Homo sapiens: one gene and its partner. The protein of the gene in region 2 purifies or fractionates together with the protein of the main gene of each other region. This does not show direct contact. Each region holds a gene or a part of one and is shown on either strand. Other genes may lie near its edges.

The links. Proteins that work in one complex are often made in the same cells at the same time.
Region 1: the proteins of DUS4L (region 2) and PTPRG purify together in Homo sapiens (affinity purification with mass spectrometry; 2 studies listed by BioGRID and IntAct, with this or other methods). This does not show direct contact.

What each region holds. Positions count from the first base shown.
Region 1 is NC_000003.12:62,271,571-62,278,570, reverse strand, and holds part of PTPRG (receptor-type tyrosine-protein phosphatase gamma isoform 1 precursor), read right to left. Parts: intron 5,626-7,000; coding exon 5,490-5,625; intron 4,874-5,489; coding exon 4,727-4,873; intron 2,699-4,726; coding exon 2,605-2,698; intron 1,600-2,604; coding exon 1,523-1,599; intron 1,021-1,522; coding exon 892-1,020; intron 1-891.
Region 2 is NC_000007.14:107,572,623-107,579,986, reverse strand, and holds the end of DUS4L (tRNA-dihydrouridine(20a/20b) synthase [NAD(P)+]-like), read right to left. Parts: intron 6,284-7,364; coding exon 6,166-6,283; exon of another isoform or gene 6,104-6,165; intron 4,800-6,103; coding exon 4,677-4,799; intron 3,622-4,676; coding exon 3,395-3,621; intron 2,675-3,394; coding exon 2,427-2,674; 3' UTR 1,464-2,426; downstream 1-1,463. Other genes in the region: DUS4L-BCAP29 protein, read right to left, coding at 3,395-3,621, 4,677-4,799, 6,166-6,283. UniProt on the Homo sapiens protein: Catalyzes the synthesis of dihydrouridine, a modified base found in the D-loop of most tRNAs.

The DNA of each region.
Region 1 (7,000 bases), on a different chromosome or scaffold from region 2:
AGGCAGATCCTCACTGTTTTTTGTTTTTACCTCATGGGTTCACATGTCCACACAGTAACTTTTATAGACCCAGCTAATTCCGAAACTTAAGTATCCACAAGATCTAAGCAGAAACATTTAAGTCTGTTTTATAAACTTGCTCACCCTTCTGTATAGTTTAGAGACTGAAATAGAGAAGGACTAAGGGAGGGAAAAGTAGTAGCAGCTCAGTCCTAAAGACCTTTAAGTGGGAACAAAATAGCCTATCCCTGCAGTAGACCTGACTTGCCTATGGAGTGGGAAAAAAAAATTCACTATTAGTACTTTTGATACAATATTTTGGGGTAAGACATACAGTAAAATGATTATATAAGCATGGTCTCTGGAGACAGATGACTCAGGTTAAAATCCTGGCTCCAGTTACTTGTGTGTGCTCTCTTGAGCAAGTTTGTTCTCAGTTTTCTCAGCTATTACATGAGATAATAATAGTATGTATGTCTTAAAATTGTTGAGAATTAAACAAGTTAATGCATGTAAACACAGTTACATACTCAGTACCTGTAAGCTACAATTATTTACTTTTCAAAAGTGACATACAGCAGGGAAGAGGTTGGTGTAGTCATATATTAATGAGGTTACTAAAAACATTTTCAAAACCTTCTACCACACCGCCACAGACAGTACAATTGAAGGGTGATATCAATAGCATCAGAGACTCAAGTAATGGAACTGATAGGGACAGTATTGTGAGACTATGAAAGGAATCTCCACAGACTTCAAGATGAGAATTTAAAAATTTTAAATTCCCTCCCTAGCATATATGGATACTATAGCCCTATGGCAAAGTATCAAAGTAATTTATGCTTGTAGCCTCATGGGCTCATTAATATATAGCAGATGTGCTTTACTTACCAAGCTCTGGTTGTCTGGCAGCATGACAATGATCTGTGCGTTATGATCCCAAATCATTCGCCAGAAATCTTTCGTAGTATGTGGCAGAGGATGCTGAGTTATAATAAATTCATTGCTCCTATAATAGCCCTTCAGTTGGGAAGACAAAAAAAATCAGTGAATATGAGTGTTTTATTCTAACTTTGTGGTAGTAAAATATATTCATGAAATAAGATAGCACTGTTTTGACTACACTAAAATAATTGAGAAAGGCATTCGGTACATTTGGCTAATTTTTAGATGTACTTCTGCTAGCACTGTGCAGACAATTTTCTCTCCATGTGCAGTTCACTTCTAGTTAACCCTGCTGTTTTCACTTAAGGGAAATTTCAACATTTATTCAAAGACTAGATGTGTGAAATTAACAATAAAATTAATTCCTTAAGAAGCATTCTGCTTAATTTAAGCATTTTTGTACCAGCACTGATTAGGTATCTTTTGTTAAAAGTTTCAAGATACAGAAATCTCTATACTTTTCATATTACACATTGAGAAATTATTTCAAAAATGACATCAGTCACACAGGTGGTATCTGCTCTTTAACACCTTTCAGTTTAGTTGACTTTATTTATAATTAACTGTTGACTCTCACCATGATATAAGAAGCATTAATGTAATCTGTTCCTTTCATTCCAGGCAATGGTGCAAGACCCACTCGAGCACGCTCAGCTATCATATGGAAAAAACAAAAACACCACATTTGCCTTATTATACACACAGAACCAACAGCTCTTTCTGAGATTTGCTTGATGAATAACATATCCTCCTGGCTTCCCTTTCTAAGACTTATCTATATTTTTAAACAAGCTAAAGTGTTATCAGCTGAGGCAGAATGTAAAATGAAATTTTGCTGCACATACCCAGAAGGACACAGGCATTGTAGGAATACAGTTTTACTGTGGGAGAGATTTTTACAGCAGATCAATAACAGAATACTTTATATGGACACAACAGAGGATTTTAGATAACTTTTGACTCTAGTTTGTTATTCCTACAATTATACCAACATATACTTTGTCCTTTTACCAACCCCTTTCTCCATGTCTTTCTGCTCATGATGGTCTTAGAAAAGAGTGGCCTTTTTCATTAGAGATAAATCTCCCAAATGATCACCCATGTCTATGCCTACAGCACACAGACAGCATCCTCTGCAATGTCCTTAGCTATTTATACAAAGGTCACCACCAATCAACAGTGCCTTGATCTCAATAGCCACAGTAACTGAATAAGGTAGTTCTAGTTGTACAGATTAATCCAGGATTCTAAGTTTTAGAGGAATGTTAATGCCACAGCAATAACAGCTTTATTATTATTTTTTATGTTATAATATGGTAGAAGTAACCCAATTCTTGCATTCCAAGGTGAAATGAAGCTGTATTCTACGTCAGATAGATGGAGCACTTGCTGACACTGACAACCACCTCTCCCAGTTTCATTAAACTACCTTAGTTGAATAAGCATAACATTTTCCCTTTTGGTAGTACCAGGTAAGAGGCTGGTATAAAGTCATACATTAATGAGGTTACTAAAAGGACATTTTCAAAACCTTCTACCATACGGCCACGTACAGTACAATTGAAGGGTGCTATCAATAGCATCAGAGTAGTGGCTGCCTCTGTACCTAACATACAATCCAGTATAAAAGATCACTAACAAACTGTTTTAAAGTCTTACATGGCACAACTGAAGAGTTTCTGTTCTTTTCTTTGTTACACTCTTTCTGAGCACTGAAACATTCCACATATTTTGCATTACACTGTGTGACCAGCTGAAAAAGAAAAAACATTTTAGTCTTCATTCAAAGATATAATTGATAGCATTTGCTTGATGCTTTGGCAAAAATCCCAATCAGATTACTGATAAACAAGACCATTTCTGTGCCACAAAGAACCTTTTAAGACACAGGGTCTTGCTCTCTTGCCCAGGCTGGAGTGCAGTGGCATGATTGTAGCTCAGTTAACTGTGATCCTCCCACCTCAGCCTCCTGAGTAGTTAGGACCACAGGTGCATCAGCACAACCAGCTAATTTTTAAAATTGTTTATAGAATTGGGGTCTTCCTGTGTTTCCCAGGCTGCTCTGGGATTACAGGTGTAATCTACCATGCCCAGCCCCAGAGAACACTCTTGTGCTTTCCTAGTGGTACTTCTCTCAGTGACCTTGATTGTATCTTTCTTATTTCTACTATCAGGTAGAAATAGGTACTGTGTGCAATAGATATTTCTAGAACTATGTGGATTCTTCTGTTATGTGATGTCACTGCTGCTGTGAATTTTTTTCTGTGATCCTCACTGGCATAAAAGACCTACGTGAGTCTACATTAAAAAAGATTGCTTAATGCTATTGATTACGAGCTAATCAAGTTTCTTGAAGATAAAGGAGTACTTAACTAGTTCTCAGTACATTTCTGTTGAACTGAACTAACATTGTTCTAAGGCTTTTATAAGTAACCAGCCCAGTAGTTTGATTATTATTCCTGTTTATGTAGCTTGGTTGAACCATTTTGTCAATCCTATTTTTTGGGGGCTGGCATCCATCCTAATGGAGTATATGAGATCAGTGTTCTTCTCCAGATGCTTTAGTAAAACTCATGGTCCCTGGATATAATTTTCATTTTCAAGTTTGATTCTTGTTTTTTTCTTCATCTTGAGCTCTAAAATGGTTAGTGCCTGTAAAAGAACCAACTACCTGGTCGCATTTCTTAAATGAAGTTTTAAAGTATGTATAAAAAAAAATTGAAGAAACGAAAAAGGCAGAATTTAAGAAATGTTGGTACTTAATATTTTGTAAGAACTCATGTTAAACATTTAAAATGATACACTGTGTCCTCATTATTAATTATCTCATGGTTTTATAGTAGAATGTTAATGGGGAGCTAAAAATTTTTAATTTTATGACTGAACTCAGTGAAATTAAACTATTTTTCATTTCATATCACTTGGTATAATTTGCTTGGCAGTCTCATTTCTTCAGCTGAGATTCAAATGAAAGTTTCAGTCTATGGAAAGTTTTACCATGAAAACTAAAACTGTAGATTCATCTCATTCTTTGAATCTTGATACAAAGGGAGAAACTATTTACATACAGAACAATGTGCAAAATAGAATTTAAAAGACAAAGATAAATAGGAAAGCACTTGGTAACTGGAGAGACAGGCGATGTTTGAAAGTTAGAAGCAATTTTGATTTATTATCAGATGACTGAGCCCTAATTATTTTAATAGTCCTTATAATCTCTCTTTTTCACCTTCACTTCAGTCAATTCCATATAAACCTTAACCGCTTTTAAGCTTCTTCATGTCCCTATCAAAGAAAAAGAACAACCATTTAGGAAAAGTTAACTTTTCTCTAGTATTGTTTAGTAATTCTTTTTAAATTCCTAAATTATCTTCTGAAATAGTTTTTGAAATAGGCATATTTTTAGGACAATATGTCTACAAGTCATCATTCTTAATAATTAAGGTAAGATAGATTAGTTCAGAAAAAATAGGACATTTTTTGGACTAAACGAGTTACTTTAAAGTACTATGTCATTATGGCCAGGGGCTGATGTTTATATTCAGATAAAGTCATAAATTGCTCAGAAGAAAATACAACACTGTATATCTACTTGAATACCAACAATTCATACATAGGTCAAAACCGTATTTTCTTTTTCATCACATTTAAGGAGTACAAGGAGTACAAATAGTAATCCATTTCGGTGTATACATTAATGCAAAGAAGACATAACCCCCAAACTCAAGGCATTTAAAACATTTTCTTGCTTTATGCCAAAGAAACTTTTTCAAAGCACTACCTTGAATTGCTTTTCCAGTCGTGTCTTTCCTCCTACTCCTGGTATAAGGATGCTGTTAACATAGCTGTGCAGCTGATTTGAAGATACTTCAGTCTCCTTTCCAAGAATGGCTTCCAACAAGGCATCATGGATGAAAATGTACTGCTCCTAAGAGGTACAATACATGGTAGTCACTGAGGGAGTGTTAAGGGTTAGCCACTCATTCATGAAGTGTACCTTAGTTTAATTCTGCTGCTAACAGGGACCTCCCAGTGATTTCCTTCAAGCACTTACAGCTAGGTGATTTGCTCCAATACTCACTTTATCAGTCTTAACTTATTTTACGGTAGAGACTGTGTTAAGTTTAGCTCTGTATTCTATACTGTGCCTGGATCACGGTATTCTATACTGTGCTTATTGCTTCAACTCAATAAGCAAACAAAAAATCGTGTTCAATGAAGGGTTTTAGAACCATCCTCTCCTATGTATTTCTCAGGCCAGACAACATGTTTAACTCCCCCTACCATCTAACACAGCTCTTGAAACAACTGTATCTCTTTCGTAAGTACTTGTGTAGTTATTTAGGAATCCAAATGTTAAGATCCATACAGAAATGGAAAACTGTGATCCGTAGAATAGGATCATTGTCAGAATATCTTCTAATACAAACCTGTAAATTACTGCAAGCCCTAAAAGAATGAATCTGTCTCTTCATTATCATTTAACAAATTTCAGTTACAGCATTTGCCAGAATGTCGTGAGGACGCTGGCAGCTACTCCTTACCTCAGTCTGGACGAGGTAGTTACGCTGTGTCCTGATATGCTTCAGGAATCCCAGGACGTTAACTGTGCTTTTGTCTTTTATCTGTTGCAGCATGCTGTCTATTACAATATAGGTGCCTGTTCTGCCCACACCAGCACTGTAAGAAATGAAGACACTCAACTGGCACTTTTGTTTTATCATACTGTTAACTTTGGATTCGAAAAATTCCAATCTAAACCCCATTTATTTTATTATTTTTCTGAGATGAGATGGAGTTTCACTCTGTTGCCCAGGCTGGAGTGCAGTGGCGCAATCTCGGTTCACTGCAACCTCCGCCTCCCAGTTCAAGCAATTCTCGAGCCTCAGCCTACCGAGTAGCTGGGATTACAGATGTGTACCACTACACCCGACTAATTTTTTATCTTTAGTAGAGGTTTCACCGTGTTGGCCAGACTGGTATCGAACTCCTGACCTCAGGTGATCTGCCCACTTTGGCCTCCCAAACTGCTGGAATTACATGTGTGAGCCACCACTCCCAGCCTAAACCCCACTTAGATAACCTTAGATGACGTACGTTATTCACTTAGCATTGCAACATAAATCACAGAACAAGCGACATGTATTTGAGTACCAAAGTTTAAAACAAACAAAAAAGAGGCAAGAATGCATTTTCAAATGAAACAGAATAAAAGCATTTTTAAACAACCAACTAAAGTCATTTACTGTGGCTGACAAAAAACAAGCTTTATACAAGGATTTCCCAGTGCTTTTGAAAAGGTATTTTATATGGAACATTTAAACTAAAAATTTAAAAATGAAATATTTTCATATATACTATAAATATTGTTATTTAGAAGAACCTTTCAGAAAAGCCATTTACAAAAACACAATCTCTATTCTAGTGTGGAAAGTTCTTGTGTTTAACGTCATATTTTTATTTATTAGGATCAGGCTACAATTTTCCTATAAACAATGGGGATTTTGTAATTTTTTCTTTTTTTTTTTGAGTCATGATCTTGCTCTATCATCACCCAGGCTGGAGTGCAGTTATGTGAACACAGCCCACTGCAGCCTTGACCTACTGGGTTCAAGGGATCCTTCTGTCTCAGCCTCCCATGTAGCTGGGACCACAGGCATGTGCCACCATGCTGGCTAATTTTTTTATTTTTAATTTTTGTAGAAATGGGGTGTCACTTTGTTGCCCAGGCTGGTCTCAAACTCCTGGGCTCAAGTGATCCACCCACCTCAGCCTCCCAAAGTGCTGGGATTACAGGAGTTGGCCTCCATGCCTGGCTGATATTATTAATAAGAAGATTTTATAAAAACTAGGGATTGATCTAGTTTTTTAAAAATCACAGAAGCAGCAGATGATTTCTTAATGTTACAGGAATAGAGCCTCTTTAAGACTATCATAGGTCTTATCCATCCCAGTTTCCAGTGGAAGATTCAGCTTCTAAGTGAAAGCAGTAGCAATCATTGTGGTCCAAGGTCACTGAGGCCTAAGTCCCCTGCCCCATCTATTTCACATGTTG
Region 2 (7,364 bases):
GTCCAGGTCTAAGGAGCGGCGCCGGGCGGCGGGGCTGGATTGGGTGGTGCAAATTCAGCGAACGCGCTTAAGACGCACTCCTTTCCGGTCACCTACTCTCTCTTCATGGTGGGAACTGTTTGTGTCCAGAATTAAGCTATATTTAATAAAGGGCCAGGATGAGGTGGTCGTGCAGCATTTTGTTCTGGAGAACCTAGGATCAACTGTATGTCACAACATATTCCGTAGGCGTTCCCGTTCCCGTCCATGGGCTGGGAAGAGACAGTAAACTTTACCGTGATGTTTGGGGACTGGTACGAAAGGTGGGTATGGGGATATTCTTTCACTATTTTCCAGCTTTTCAAACTGTGCGTGTACATTTAAGTTGTTGAGTTTTTTCAATATTGACAACGTATCAGGAATTTAATAAAAGTACTATCCTGGTAACAATTATTTGGGGAATAGTAAATAAATGTTGAAAATTGATAATTATAGAATATAAAACATTCAAAAACACATTTAAGTTGGTGCTTTTTCTTAATTTATCACTAATATTCTGGATCACATGTAACAGAAAAAATAGAAAAATAGACTTTGAACATAAATTAACCATAAGGAAGATTTTTTTTTTTTTTTTGAGATGGAGTCTCCCAATGTCGCCCAGGCTGGATTGTGGTGGTGCGATCTCGGCTCACTGTAGCCTCTGCCTCCCAGGTTCAAGTGATTCTCTGGCCCCAGTCTCCAGAGTGGCTGGGATTACAGGCGCCTGCCACCATGCCTAGCTAATTGTTGTATTTTTAGCAGAGACAGGGTTTCACCATGTTGGCCAGGCTGGTCTCGAACTCCTGGACTCAAGTGATCTGCCTGCCTTGGCCTCCCAAACTGTTGGGATTACAGGTGTGAGCCACCGCGCCTAGCCAGGAAGTTACTTTTTTTTTTTTTTTTTTGAGACAGAGTCTTGCTCTGTTGCCCAGGCAGGAGTGCAGTGGCGCAATCTCAGCTCACTGCAAGCTCCACCTCCCAGGTTCACACCATTCTCCTGCCTCAGCCTCCTGAGTAGCTGGGACTATAGGCGCCCGCCACCACGCCCAGCTAATTTTTGTATTTTTAGTAGAGACGGGGTTTCACCGTGTTATCCAGGATGGTCTTGATCTCCTGACCTCGTGATCTGCCCGTCTTGGCCTCCCAAAGTGCTGGGATCACAGGCGTGAGCCACCGCGCCCGGCCAGGAAGTTACTTTTAATCAAAAGTGTTAGAACTTCTTGCCCATCCACGCTGGTTCCTTCCAAACACCGAGCACATTACTCTAGTGATGATGCTGTGCTCACAACACTAGGGTAATTCAATTCAGAGTTCTGACCATACCTCCCTATTTTGTACAGTATTCATAGAAAATGAAACAGCGAGTTATCTTTAAAAAAAAAAATGCATTAACTGAAAAGTGAAAACAGAATGTACTGAGAAAAAAGATGGCACCACAGTGCTTATGTTAAAATGGATTCATTCAATATTCCCAAACGTGAATTAAACAGTTTTACATAATTGTTTCCTTATAACAGTTTTCATGTTGGCAAAACAAAATAATACTTTAATTATGAACGGTTTTATTTCAGTCTGAGATACTTAATTCTTGCAGTGCATGCCCACCGATAACAAAATCTATTAATAACACTCCAAAACCATGGGACTTTAAAGTTACAATCAACGGCTGAGAGGCACAAAAGTAATTAGGTTTTAAAGTTAAAAACAAAACCTGGTTACTATTCTCTAGGAAATATTTCAAATATATAATCATCTCCAGGTTGGACACCAAATTTCCTATACTTAAGATATGGTAGATTGCAATTAATTTTATCTTTTTAGGTAGGAGATTATTAAGCTTTCAATCTTTGGAGGACCTAGAAGTTTTGAAATGTACCAAATTTAATGTCATTAACCAAATGGAATTTTTAATATAAGTTCTGAGTGCAATTCTATTCAGAATTTCCTGTTCTTTTTCATTTTGGATGGATGTTGGTATTTGTTCCACCACTTTTTTGCACCTGCATACTTCTTGTTAATTTATAGATACTATAAGCCATAATTTCTTAGTATTAAATTTTATTTTAAAATGTTAAAAACATGATTAGGAAAAAATTCCCACTCTACCCATCCCCCCAATATCTATAGAACAGGATTCAGAGCAGTATTTGTCAATGTTTGCCTAGGATGATCAGGATGTTTGAACCACTGGGAGTTTTCTTTAAACTGTGTATTTCTGGGTCTACTCCAGATCTACCTAATCAGAATCTCTGAGGGTGGTGTCTACAACTGATTTTTAAAAAACGCTCCCAGGAATTGTTTTTATACTAAAATTTGAGAGCTACTGGTTTAAGGTACAAAATATGACCTTCTGTGGTTTCACTGTGGGTCTAAAAGTATATATTAAAATTATTTGGGAAGTCTAGTCAAATGCCATAATGGTCTGTAAGGTAATCTATGATTGCTGATGTGCTTGACAGAGCATTAAATACCCTTTTTTCCTGCCTTGAAGTTATCTTTTCCATCATGTACATTAAATGTTGATGGAAACACATGTAAGGAGTCCCGAGTTCAAGAGCAATGTCAACCCAGTCCCAGATGCATTTCAGTGGGGTTTCCTCATATCCAGCAAACATGGCCGGGTTTGCTAAGAGTCCTCTTGCAACCATCACACCTACAAATTAAAGCACACCATATTTGTCCATACATTAAGAACCCCTGGTTATTAGTTCAAGCTCAATGAAGCAAACAGTATATTTTTAAAAAGTATTATCACAAGGTTTTGTAATGTCTTTATTGCATTAATATGTTTAATCCGATTACAAAAGAATTAATTTTGGTACCTTTTGTAAACCAGGAAAGTTTAAATGTACGTACAGAAATCTTTATTTTTTAAAGATTTCTACATTAAACCATTAGTCTTTAGTTTTTCTTTAGGGTAAATCTGGATTGTCATAAATTGGGCTGCTTAAAGTTCAGTTTATCTATATTCTCCCATCTAGCAATTATAGGGCTTGGCATGCCAATAATTTAAGGGAATAATGAAACTGCATAGCAGTTCTGGGATTCCTTTAGCTCTTATCATTCTCGAGTTCACTTACTCTTATTTCTAGGTGCTTTATTTTACTAGTAGGCTATCTGGAAAATTCTTCACTGGTCACTAGATATGATGGTGTCAGAAAAGTAACTGAATTAATTTATCCCAGTTAAGATAATCCATGTTTTTCTAGGTAGAAAACTTAACATCATTTTAATAAATCGCTTAGCTTAAAACAGTACAATGGGAAAATATGGCTTAATGTTAAACAAAACAAATGAAAATCAAATTAACATTACTTCCCCACTCTCATTTCTTCCCCCCCCAATTAAAAGAACCCAAGTACTTATTTCTTACCATCTGTCCCAGTAATCCGCCACACATTTTCTGCTTCCTTTAAGCTTCTGATGTCTCCATTAGCAATTACAGGTATAGACATATTTTCCTTAATTATTTTAATGGAATCATAGTGCACTGGCTGATGTCTTTCTTCAGCAGTTCTTCCATGGACTGTAATCCATGAAACTCCTGTTGCTTCAGCCTTTTGACAAAGATCTACAGTTCTTTTAAGGTCATCATGGATCCTACAATTTCAAAATTACATTTATCTGTTCACAGCACACAAATCTTAATGCTAACATTAACTGACTAAAATGGTATTTCATCTACCAAATTAGTTAGCTTTGCTATATCATATTATTACTCTATGTCATTATCAGCAAGGTTTTCTTCAGGGAGCAGTTCCTACACAAGACCTCAAATTTAGCTATTTCACTATTGACAACAAAGGACAAAAAACAAGTTTTATCTTAGACCTAGTGCTTCTATGTTTTGGCTTTGATAAATGAAAGACCCATGAAAGTACTGTCACAGATGAATTTAAACCTTAATATTTGCTGTGCATGCCCCCATCCCCCAGTGGGAGAATATAATACTTTATCTTGAAATATGTTTTCAGGCTGGGCACCGTGGCTCACTCCTGTAATCCCAGCACATTGAGAGGCTGAGGCAGGTGGATCACTTGAGGCCAGGAGCTCAGGACTGGCCTGGCCAACGTGGCGAAACCTCGTTTCTACTAAAAAATACAAAAATTAGCGAGGTGTGGTGACACACACCTGTAATCCCAACTACTTGAGAGGCTGAGGCATGAGAATTGCTTGAACCTGGGAGGCAGGGGTTGCAGTGAGCCAAGATTGTGCCACTGCACTCCAGCCTGGGCAACAGAGTGAGACTCTGTCTCAAAAAAAGAAATATGTTTTCAACCTGTCACGGAAAAACTGATTCCTGGTTTATTTTCTTTTCATTGTGAAATTTTAGTGCAAATATTTTTCCTATTTTCTACACTTGGCACCAGTAATGTTTCTTAACATTAAATACTACATAGCTAAAGTTGAAAGTTTGGTGAAACTTAAAGGGAGGCTTTAACTTTTGTTAAAAGTACAAAGAGGAAGTTTTTCAGGACTATAAATGAAAATTATGGTATATATTCTTTTACTAAATGTCTTATTTTCAACATTTCCATACACCAGCTACCAATTTATTTAGGATAGATACTCCCAACAGCATCAGACAAAAGCAATAATCTTTCATTTCCTAAGTAATGGATTATCCTATCAATAGATTGAAATATTGTCTTTACCTTATTTTAATAGAAACTGAAAATCCAGGGGTTTCCACTTGATTTCTTACTTGTTTCACCATGTCTTGAACAAGCTCTGGCTTGTTTATTAAGCAAGCCCCATAACCTTCTGCCATTGCCCACCTTTGTAAAGCAAACACATGAACAAGTGAATTATAAATAACTGGAAGAGAAGACAAAATTCTGAAAGCACTGAAATGTAAGTGCATCCATTTCTCTAGTGATCTGGAAGAGAAGCAGATATAAAAAATTCATAGATTCAACATTTCTAAGTGGATCAATATGAGATTAGGAAAACATGTTCCCAGATCAAAAAGTACTCAGGAGAAATGGTTTTCATTGGCAAGTGAGAATATTAAGTTAAAAGTCATTCAACCAAAACAGGTTTAAATATTTGAAGTAATTGCAATGACTTCAGATTTTAAAAATTCCAAATTTGATGTTTATTGTGCATAACAAGAGGTTTTATTAGTCTCAATAGTAGAAAGATATTTTTGGCTTACAGCATTCCAATACCACTAAACAGCTAATTTAACCCTCCTAATGAGTATACAAATATGTCTAATCTGATTTCGATTACGCTATACTTAACAACTTTGCTTTTATTCTTTGGACACATTTTGAATTACTGATAATCTACTACAGTGCCAGTAAAGTAGAACTATTATTGTCAGGCTGGGCGCGGTGGCTCAGGCCTGTAATCCCAGCACTTTGGGAGGCCAAGGCGGGCGGATCACCTGAGGTTGGGAGTTTGCAACCAGCCTGACCAACATAGAGAAACCCCGTCTCTACTAAAAATACAAAATTAGCCTGGCGTGGTGGTGCATGGCTGTAATCCCAGCTACTCAGGAGGCTGAGGCAGGAGAATCGCTTGAACCTGGGAGGCGGTAGTTGTGGTGAGCCGAGACCACACCACTGCACTCCAACCCGGGAAACTCTTGTCTCAAAAAAAAAAAAAAAAAAAGAAATATTATTGTCAAATTAAGTACACCCTATCAACACCCAGTTATTTAAACCCAAACAAGTAACTGTGGTATAGAAAGAAAAAGTGATTATAATAAGGTATTTTTATAAGGGGAATTAATTAGGAGGAAATATGTGGTGATTTCCTAAGTCAAACAATCTGTTTTCAGAGCAAGTATATCTGACATGACAGTAAAAATACATTTTAGGGATTGCCGTAAACATTAGATTCTCATATAACTACTTAGGGATGAGATTCAAGGCACAGCCACATAAAAATTCTATTGGTGAGGGGAGACAAAACACCTGTCAAAGGTCTATACATCATTTCAGTCATCAGAAAAGACCTTTGAATTTATGTTTCTAAATTACATTTCCCTATATTTTCTTCCTTCTTGTTTTGAGCCCTGGGACTGTAACTCTATTTTCTTTTTAATTTTTGGAAAACTAGAAAGATATTTTACCATGTTCACACAGTTTTTTTTCTACTCTTTTGGAAAATTCTTCCAACTTCTTTGAGCTTTACCTCTGAGGGCAACCACAGTTAATGTCTATTCCATTCGCATAAGGACAGACTATACGAGCAGCATCAGATAAAAGTCTTGCATCGTTAGCAGCAAACTGAACAATCAATGGGCAATCACCTGACAAAATGAATAGCTCAACATTAAAATTCACAGGAAAAAACCCCATGCACACACACACCAAACTTTAATGTTTGTACAGGATAAAATAGCAATAACGATTTTTTAGCCTAAGAAGCATCTGTCCAAATAATATAACATTAAACAATTTAAAATATTTAAAATTAAAAGCAATTTACACGGTAAAAAATTCAAACAGTACAAAATTTGATAAATGAAAACAATTCTAATACTTTTGACAAAATAGACCCTCTTCTCAAAGGTGAGAATTAGTTTACTGCATTCCAGAACAATTTTTTTGTATACCTGTAAAATTTAAACAAGTGTGAACAATCTATATATACCACTGTGCCTAGTGTTCCTTTCTTTCCTCATGTATCTGGGAGATGTACTCAGACCTATTTTCTTCTTTATAGTGGGATATTCCGCTGTACGGATGGACCATATAGTGTATTTTTAGACTGTTTCACATGCTCTGAGTATATTCATAGGGTAAATTCTTAGGAGAATTGTTAATAGGCATTTAACATACAACACTGTGATAGATATTACAGAATTATCTTTCAAGAGTTTACCAATATAGACATATACCAATATGGATAAAAGTTCTTGTTTCCTCACAACTTATCATACAGTGTATATCCAACATTTGAATATTCTAATTTGTGAGCTCTCTTCATATTCTTTGCATTTTTCTGTATATAATTTTTCCATTAGTTGTTCTTTTTATTTGTAATTTTTTTAATAAAACAAAGAAATTAGTATTGCTATCTATCATGTGTTATAAATATTCTCCTCAGTTTTTTGTCTTTGAGTATATTTGTGCTCTTACATATAAATGTTTAATTTTTTTTTTTTTTTGAGACAGAGTCTGTCACCCAGGCTGGAGTGCAGTGGCACAATCTCAGCTCACTGCAACCTCTGCGTCCCAGGTTCAAGTGATTCTCCGGCTCAGTCTCCCAAGTAGCTAGGATTACAGGCACCTGCCACCATGGCCAGCCAATTTTTGCATTTTTAGTAGAGATAGGGTTTCACCATGTTGGTCAGGCTGGTCTCAAACTCCTGACCTCAGGTGATCCAC